2 separate regions of the Homo sapiens genome follow, and region 2 is linked to region 1. Evidence: fine-mapped expression QTL. Tissue or cell type: skeletal muscle. Region 1 holds a variant in brackets; the other region holds the start of a gene. All regions are shown on one strand. Distances are from middle to middle.

Region 1 (4,158 bases):
CAGGCTGGTCTTGAACTCCTGACTTCAAGTGATCCACCTGCCTCAGCCTCCCACAGTGCTGGGATTATAGGTGTAAGCCACCGTGCCAGGCCTCCTTACCTCCCTTATCATTCTCTTCAACTCTCTTAGTCTCTGTCTCTCTTGCTCTTTTCCTTTCTGAGTGTGAGTCTCTCAAGTTTCCCCTTCTCTTTCTGTTTCGGTGTCTCTCAGTCTCCATCCCTTTCCCCACCCCCAAGCCACTTTTCTCTATCTCTTTTTCTTTCTTTGAGATGGGGTCTCACTATGTTGCCCAGGCTGGTCTCAAACTCCTGGGCTCAGGCAATCTTCCCACCATGGCCTCCCAAAGCACGGGGATTACCGGCATGAGCCATTGCGCCTGGCCCCTACCTCTTTTTCTTCCACCATCTCTTTATCTCTCCAGTACTCCCTCTCTCCTTGGATATATATACCTGCTAACTACGGTGTCTCATCTCTCTCTGTCTGCCTTGTCTGCCCTCTCAGTGTCTCCAAGTGACTCTACACACACATCTCTCTCTTTCCTTCTCACTCTCTCTCCCCATCACCCTTGGGAGCCCAGCCCACCTACCGAAACCGCTCCTGGCCAGCCGTGTCCCAAATCTGTAGCTTCACAGTCTTCCCACCCACGTTGACCACCCGGGATCCAAACTCCACGCCGATTGTGTGGTTGGAGTCCTGTTTGACTGGGAGTAGGAGGAACAGAAGGGGCAGTACAGGGAGAGAGGAGACAGCTCAGAGGATCCCCCATCCTCCAAGGCCCTCTCAGTCTCTACAAACCCATTCTCCTTGCTGGAGTGACTTGAGGTCAAGGAGAACCTAGTAAAGGACATACGACAAAGCAAGGACCAAAAAGCCAGCACTGGACTTGTACCTATGGCCAGCCCTGCCCTCCCCACCGGCTGCCCACCAGCCCACACCATGCGCATAAACACAGCTCAGGGTTCCCAGGACCACTGCGGGAAACTCACACTTATTCTCAATGAACTGATGAAGGAGACATGATTTGCCAGTTCCTGCACTGCCAATCACCAGGAATTTGAAGAGGAAGTCTGACCAGATGGAGCCAAAATCAGGGATACCCACAGGGAGAGAAAGATACAGGGAAAAAAGATGGATTCCAATCCAATCTCTCTCTCTAACCATCACAGTTAGAGGGAGAGAAACAGACATAGGCAGAAACAAACCAATAGGTAACAGTAACAGATAACTCTTATGTAGTACTTGCCATGTGCCAGGCACATTCTATATATTTTTTTTCAACTTTTATTTTAGATTCAGGGAGTACATGTGCAGGGGTTTTTTTGTCGTTGTTTTTGTTTTTTTGAGACAGAGTTTCACTTTTCGTTGCCCAGGCTGGAGTGCAATGGCGCGATCTCGGCTCACCGCAACCTCCACCTCCCAGGTTCAAGCAATTCTCCTGCCTCAGCCTCCCGAGTAGCTGGGATTACAGGCATGCGCCACCACACTCAGCTAATTCTGTATTTTTAGTAGAGACGGGGTTTCTCCATGTTGGTCAGGCTGGTCTCAAACTCCCGACCTCAGGTGATCCGCCTGCCTCAGCCTCCCAAAGTGCTGGGATTACAGGCATGAGCCACCGC[G/A]CCCAGCCCACATGTGCAGGTTTGTTACATGGGTCAATTGTGTGTTGTTGTGGGCCAGGAACAGTTCTAAAGGTCTTTACTCACATCAACAGCTCACATCATCCTCAGGAAAACTCTATGAGGGAGGTAGACTAAAAATTATTCCCATTTTCCGGATGAGGTAACAGGCCAGAAAGGTTAACTGACTTGCCCAAAGTGACACAGCTGGGCAGAAGTGAGATTCAAACCTAGGCCAAGGGCTCCAGAGTCCCAGATCTTAGCTATTTTGTCGCTAAAGTCTCTTGAAAGCTATTTAAACAAGGACTACGATATAGCCCTTGTTCCTCTTCACCTCCTACCACCCTCTGACTCATTCACTCCACTATAGCTCCTGACCTTCAGTCTATTCCCTGAAAATGACAAGCTGGTTCTCACCTCAGGGTCTTTGCACTCTTCTCCCTTCTCTTCTATATTTGTTGAGTGAATGCGGCTCCCTCTGACTCCTAAACCTGCACTTCCCCTGCCTCCAATCACCACCTCCTATGGTGCATCCCTACTGATTTTCCACTTCCCGACCTCTCCTTCCCTCCCTCTGCCCAGAACCCGGCTCCATTCTCATGCATAAGTCCCACCCTTTGCCACTAAGTCCTGCCCCTAACTCAAGGACAGCCCATCCCCAAACCCATTCCAGAGCTCTCTCCAGCCAGATCAGCCCCAGGGTCCCGAGCTTCCATTCAGTGTTCCCTCTAGCCCATAAGCCCGACTCCTGCCATTCATGCAGTCAGCCCCGCCCCTTCACTCAGGCTCCGCCCAGATCCATTAAGGCCCACCTCTTCCCTCAGGGCCTCCCTGAACCCCTCAGGACCAGCTCCCTCAAATCCCGCCCCAGATCTATTTAACCCACGCACCAGACCCTCAGGCTCCACCTAAATCGATTAAGCTCAGCCTCAGACCCACTAAACCCCTCCCAGCATCCACTTAGGTCCTGCCTCCATCACACCAGACCCCGCCCCCTGATCTACAAAGCCCCGCCCATTCCCACAGGCCGCATCCTCCCTGGGCCCAGACCCAGGACCCCAGCTTCGTCCACCACCCTCACCGTAGGTCTCAGCCATGACTCGGTCGCGGCCGCTGAGGGCCGCAATATGGCGCCGCGGCCGCGCCTGCTCCTCGGCTGGCAGCCGCTCCACTCCGGCTACAGCCCCGGCTCCTTCCTACTCCCCGGGCCCGGCACCGCCACTTCCGCCTCCGCCCCCCTCCGGCGCGACCCGCTCCGGCAGCTGGATACCAGGCGACGCTTTCCGAAGGGCGGGATTGGCGGACTCGCGGGCAGGGGGCGGGACAAGAGGCGCGGATTGGTGGCGTGAGAAGGACCAAGCCCAAAGGGGCGGGGCCGAGCCCAGCGATTGGCTGAGCAAGTGGGAAGGGACGTGCAGAGCTGCTTAGCTGAGCCGAGGAACGGATTTAGTCTGGAGTACGGGGGGCAGAGTCGAGTCTCCGGATTGGATCGGAGCGGACTTGGGGGAGGGGATACAAATGCAAAGAAGGGGGCACGGGCAGGATTGACAGAAAGAGGCTGGAAGAGGAGCTGATCTTGAGCTGGCGGGAGCGATTACTGTTCTCAAAGGCGAAAAGGAGGAAAACTGGGCAGATAGGCGCAGGTTACTTCCCACCTCCCTTTCCAGATAATCTTCCAAGAAAACCTTTACTGTGCGATTTATATCCTCCGCGTAGTCCGATTGGCTCCCTCCCACTGGTCTAGAGAGGACACTACAATCCCCTAGTTGGGCTGCTTAGGTTTTCCTTTGCTTGTGTCCGAAACCTAAGCTTAGGAGCGCTCCTACTGCACAGGGCTTTCATCAGTGAAACTCTGCCTAGCAACCACTGACGTTACCACAGGCAGCGGGTTAATTGGTTAGATTCAGCAACCTAGAGAAACATTTCATTTGTACAGTCCCCACCCTACCCTACCCCACCCCAAAGACCACGGAGACGAGCCGTTTGCACTGGGCTGATTGTATTTGCATAAAGCCAAGGAGGGGAAACGGCAGGGCCAGCGGTAGGCTGAGCTCACTGGCAGTAGAAATCCCATTTCTGAAAAAGAGAAAGGGGAAACAGTGGAAAGAAAACCAGCGGTCACACCACAAAGGATCTAGTGGTTTTAGCAAAGGCTGCAGCTGCAGGGCCCAGGTCTGGCCACACAAGTGCTATGCAAATTAGCCTAGAGCCCTCTAATCTTTGCACCTCCCAACTGGACCCATTTTACTGGTGAGAAAATTGAGGCAGGGAAAGAATTTCTCCCAGCGCACATACCTAGGCTGCCAGGGAGCCAAGTGTGGGAGCATTTTTGCCCATCCCCACAACCTAAGGGTCCTCCCCCCACATTTCTTGCCAGCCCCCATGACACTCACGTCTGTCTTCACATCGACTTTGCCAGGTTTCAGGGTCTGGTCCTCTCGGACAATGCTACTGGGGAAATAGCCCAGGCGAGCAGCCAGATCTCCATAGTAATCTCCCTGAACCTGGGGAAGAGGAGTTAAAAGCTAGGGTCTGGGAAGATGGC
Region 2 (4,158 bases), 430 kb after region 1:
TGGGTTCAAGCAATCCTCTCACCTCAGCCTCCCGAGTTGCTCAGATTTTAGGGGCGCGCCACCATGCCTGGCTAATTTTTGCATTTTTAGTAGAGATGGGGCTTCACCATGTTGTCCAGGCTGGTCTCAAACTCCTGGTCTCAGGTGATCCACCCACTTCACCTCCCAAAGTGCTTGGATTACAGGTGTGAGCCATTGCGCCAGGCCGAGATATTTTTGTCTGTATTGTTCATTGAGGTATCCCCAGTGTCTAGCAGTGTTGGGCACATATATAGTACATGCTTAAGAATTATGTGCAGAATGATTAATTTGTGTTTTCATTCCCATATTGCAGATGCAGTAACTGAGGCGCTGGGAGGTTAAGTTAGTTGCCCAAGATCATGCAGTTTTTTTTTTTTTTTTTTTTTTTGAGACGGAGTCTCGCTCTTGTTGCCCAGGCTACAGTGCAATGGCACGATCTAGGCTCACTGCAACCTCCGCCTCTCAGATTCGAACGATTCTCCTGTCTCAGCCTCCCGAGTAGCTGGGATTACAGGCATGTGCCACCATGCCTGGCTAATTTTGTATTTTTAATAGAGATGGGGTTTCTCCATGTTGGTCAGGCTGGTCTCGAACTTCCGACCTGAGGTGATCCGCCCGCCTCGGCCTCCCAAAGTGCTGGGATTACAGGCGTGAGCCACCGCGCCTGGCCTATTATTATTATTTTTTTTTGAGACGGAGTCTCGCTCTTGTTGCCCAGGCTGGAGTGCAATGGCGCGATCTCGGCTCACTGCAACCTCCACCTCCCCGGTTCAAGCCATTCTCCTGCCTCAGCCTCCCGAGTAGCTGGGATTATAGGCATGCACCACCACGCCCGGCTAATTTTGTATTTTTAGTAGAGACGGGGTTTCTCCATGTTGATCAGGCTGGTCTCGAACTCCCGACATCAGGTGATCCGCCCACCTTGGCCTCCTAAAGTGCTGGGATTACAGGCATGAGCCACCGCACCCGGCCGAGGGTGACATGGTTAATAACAATATTAGCCAAAAACACCATGTCAAGCTGAGCCTACCACAAGAATAAACTCACAGAATCGTCACACTCAGCCCTGATGTGGATGTCCCCGTGTGCATTTTGCAGATGAAGCTGGGATTGGAAAGGTGCCATAAGGCAGTCAAGGTATCCAGAGGTGTAGTGGTGGGGCTGGGATTCTGACACACCCCAGGTAATGGGCTGCAGTACCCCGTATGTTATGTGAGATGTGACACGGGGAAATGACGAAGACACGGAGGGAAGAAAAATAACTGTAAGGCTGGGTGGCTCCTTATGGGGAAAACTGGAAGCATGAGGAGTGGATGGTGACTGGTCAGAGGAACAGTGATGCCAAGGGAGGGACAAAGACACAAGGGGTAATGATGACGTAAGAGTTGCATTAGCGCGATTTAAGAAGAGCGATGGGGACAGTAGCCATGCGAAGGTGACTTGGGGGTATGATGAGGGTTTAAAGAGAAATGAGGATTTTATAAAGGAGAAATGGCAACAAAAGCAGGATGCAGGTAACATATGGCGATGACGAATTTAAAGGGAGCGATTACGACCTATGGTGGCAAAGAGGGCTTACAGGGAACGAAAGCGAGTTAAGGGCGTTGATGACAACAAGAGGAGTTGTGAGGATTTAAAGAGGGTGATGGCGACAGAAGGAGTTGTGAGGATTTAAGTGGGATGAGACAGAAGGAGAGGAATGGTGACATAAAGAGACCGAGGACGACATAAATTATAGCGTGGAAGACAACGCTATAATTATATATATTATATTCCATATATTATATTCCATATAATATATATTATATTCCATGCATTATAGCGTGGAAGACAACACGAGGAGGGTAGCCGAGGCGCCGCGCCCCCAGATCGCACAGTACCTGCACTCCACGTCTCCCACTCCGAGACCCAGCCCCACACGCACCTTCCAGGCTGTATCCCCGCCTGACGGCCCCTCCTAGCCGCGCGCAGGCGCACTACGGCTAGACTGCAGGCCGGCGGGGGCCAGGCATGCGCCTTTCTCATTGGCCGCGCCGCTTGCTAGCTTCGGGCGGAGGGGAGCGCCGGGCCGACGGTGGGCGGTCACGTGACGGTTACGACTGCACTCTCGCTGGTGTCGGTGGGCGGTCACGTGATGGTTATGGCCGCACTCTCGCTGGTGGCGGCCTGTTGGGGTAGAGCGGCCGCGGACGAGTCAGTTCAGCTTCCGGCGGTGAGAGGATGCTTCCGGGGCGGGCAGCCCGGGCCGGGGGAGGAGTGTCTGACAGTTGGCGCCGCCGGGAGGGAGGGCGGGCGGCGCGAGTGGGCGCGGGCCCGGTGGGCCAGGTGAGGCGCGGGCCGGGGGTGGTGGGACTGGGCCGGTTGCGGTAGGGACGGGTGGCGTCCGGGTGTCTGGACTCAGTTCGGGCTCCGTTGTACGGCTTCGGACTTACGATTTGTTTCTTTGAGCCTCAGTTTCCTCCCCTGTGGAATGGGGGTTAGAATCCGACTGTATCACCGGCTTTATAAATGGGAGTGAGAAGTCAGGTCGTGTACGTTGGATGCCTTAGCTCAGCGCCTCCGCATAACGCTCACTTCGTTACTATACTATTATTATTAGTATTGATGTTTGAGCGCTTAGTATGAAAAATTGTTGGGTTTGGAAGCCGTCGAATTTTGGTTCAAGTCCCGCTCCACTGTGCGGCAGTGGGGCCTGTGTCTTCGCTTCCTTGAACCCCGTTTTTTCTCATCTGTACAATGAGAGCAGATAGTCCCAATATCATAGGGTCGTCTTGAGGATTCTGATGAAATCTGTGTGTGTAAAGATTTTAAGCAGAGGGGCTGGCACAGTGAGAGCTCGTGGATTGGGACTATAATGATAATGATTCTGAGAGTCATTGGTGTAGCTGGGAATTCCAGGGAAGCTGGGGGAGAAAGCTCAGAGACAGCAATAGGAAAAACTTAGAATTGGAGCCGGGGAAATCGACATCCTGTCACTTACTATTTGACCAATTTTGCTGAGTCCTGAAGTACTAGTTTTTTTCTTTTTCTTGATAATGACTAGTGCATTTTTTTCCCCAGTAAGTTAATTTGAGAAGGCAAATTTGCATTGCTGTCTTCTTCTTTTTTTTTTCTTTGAGACGGAGTTTCGCTCTTGTTGCCCAGGCTGGAGTGCAATGGTGCAATTTCGTCTCACCGCAACCTCCGCTTCCTGGGTTCAAGGGATTCTCCTGCCTCAACCTTCCGAGTAGCTGGGATTACAGGCATGCGCCACCACGCCCGGCTAATTTTTTTTGTATTTTAGTAGAGACGGGGTTTCTGCATGTTGGTCAGGCTGGTCTCGAACTTCTGACTTCAGGTGATCTGCCCGCCTCTGCCTCCCAAAGTGCTGGGATTACAGGTGTGAGCCACCGTGCCCGGCGCATTGCTGTCTTCAATGGAAAACTAGCATTGCTGGCCATGAGAGGAAGGAAAAGTTCAGGTAAAATACAATGGAAACTGAACAGCCCATTACATTGTACACTGAAATGGAAAGATAATTGAAAAGGAATACTACGTATTCCCTTTGAATAGGGATACTGTTCAGAACCTGTACTGTGTGATTCCCTGTTGTCAGATCCCATGGACCCCCATTAAGTTGTCCTTATACTTGTTCCCAGCTCACACTTTGTATAAAACTAGCATTAAGTCAGTGACTGTCCCACTGTTTCCCTAGCTTACTGAAGATTTGTTTTATTTGATGCACACTTAACATCGCACTTAACCACCTGCCGTGCATCTTTGTTCTAAGGACTCTGTTTATTAACTCGTTTAATCCTTGTAACACCTTTAAGAATGGGTCCTTGGCTGGGCGTGGTGGCTCACGCCTGTAATCCTAGCACTTTGGGAGGCCGAGACGGGCGGATCACGAGGTCAGGAGATAGAGACCATCCTGGCTAACACGGTGAAACCCCGTCTCTACTAAAACTACAGAAAATTAGCCGGGCATGGTGGTGGGGGCCTGTAATCCCAGCTACTTGGGAGGCTGAGGCAGGATAATTGCTTGAACCTGGGAGGCAGAGGTTGCAGTGAGACGAGATCACGCCACTGCACTCCAGCCTGGGCGACAGAGTGGGACTTCATCTCAAAAAAAAAAAAGGGTCCTCTTTTTTTTTTTTT

The links. PIP is the estimated chance that this variant, and not a neighbour inherited with it, causes the effect.
Region 2: it holds the start of PLD3, and the variant in region 1 is fine-mapped to the expression of PLD3 in skeletal muscle (GTEx, PIP above 0.99).

Annotation. Positions count from the first base shown.
Region 1 is chr19:40,776,928-40,781,085 of GRCh38, reverse strand. It overlaps MIA (MIA SH3 domain containing), which reads right to left. Exons shown (of 4, transcript NM_006533.4): 3 at 4,007-4,117; 4 at 3,596-3,689. The coding sequence ends at 3,666. It overlaps RAB4B (RAB4B, member RAS oncogene family), which reads right to left and starts at 2,839. Exons shown (of 8, transcript NM_016154.5): 1 at 2,695-2,839; 2 at 987-1,067; 3 at 587-701. The coding sequence starts at 2,710. MIA-RAB4B (MIA-RAB4B readthrough (NMD candidate)) reads right to left here. Exons shown (of 10, transcript NR_037775.1): 3 at 4,007-4,117; 4 at 987-1,067; 5 at 587-701. It overlaps RAB4B-EGLN2 (RAB4B-EGLN2 readthrough (NMD candidate)), which reads right to left and starts at 2,867. Exons shown (of 12, transcript NR_037791.1): 1 at 2,695-2,867; 2 at 987-1,067; 3 at 587-701. RefSeq lists enhancers at 1,237-1,768, 2,656-2,725 and silencers at 2,786-3,025, 3,576-3,705. The variant G/A (reference allele first, on the strand shown) is at 1,617.
Region 2 is chr19:40,346,512-40,350,669 of GRCh38, reverse strand. It overlaps PLD3 (phospholipase D family member 3), which reads right to left and starts at 1,975. Exons shown (of 13, transcript NM_012268.4): 1 at 1,902-1,975. It overlaps C19orf47 (chromosome 19 open reading frame 47), which reads left to right and starts at 2,273. Exons shown (of 9, transcript NM_001256441.2): 1 at 2,273-2,346. RefSeq lists an enhancer at 2,029-2,318 and a silencer at 2,309-2,398.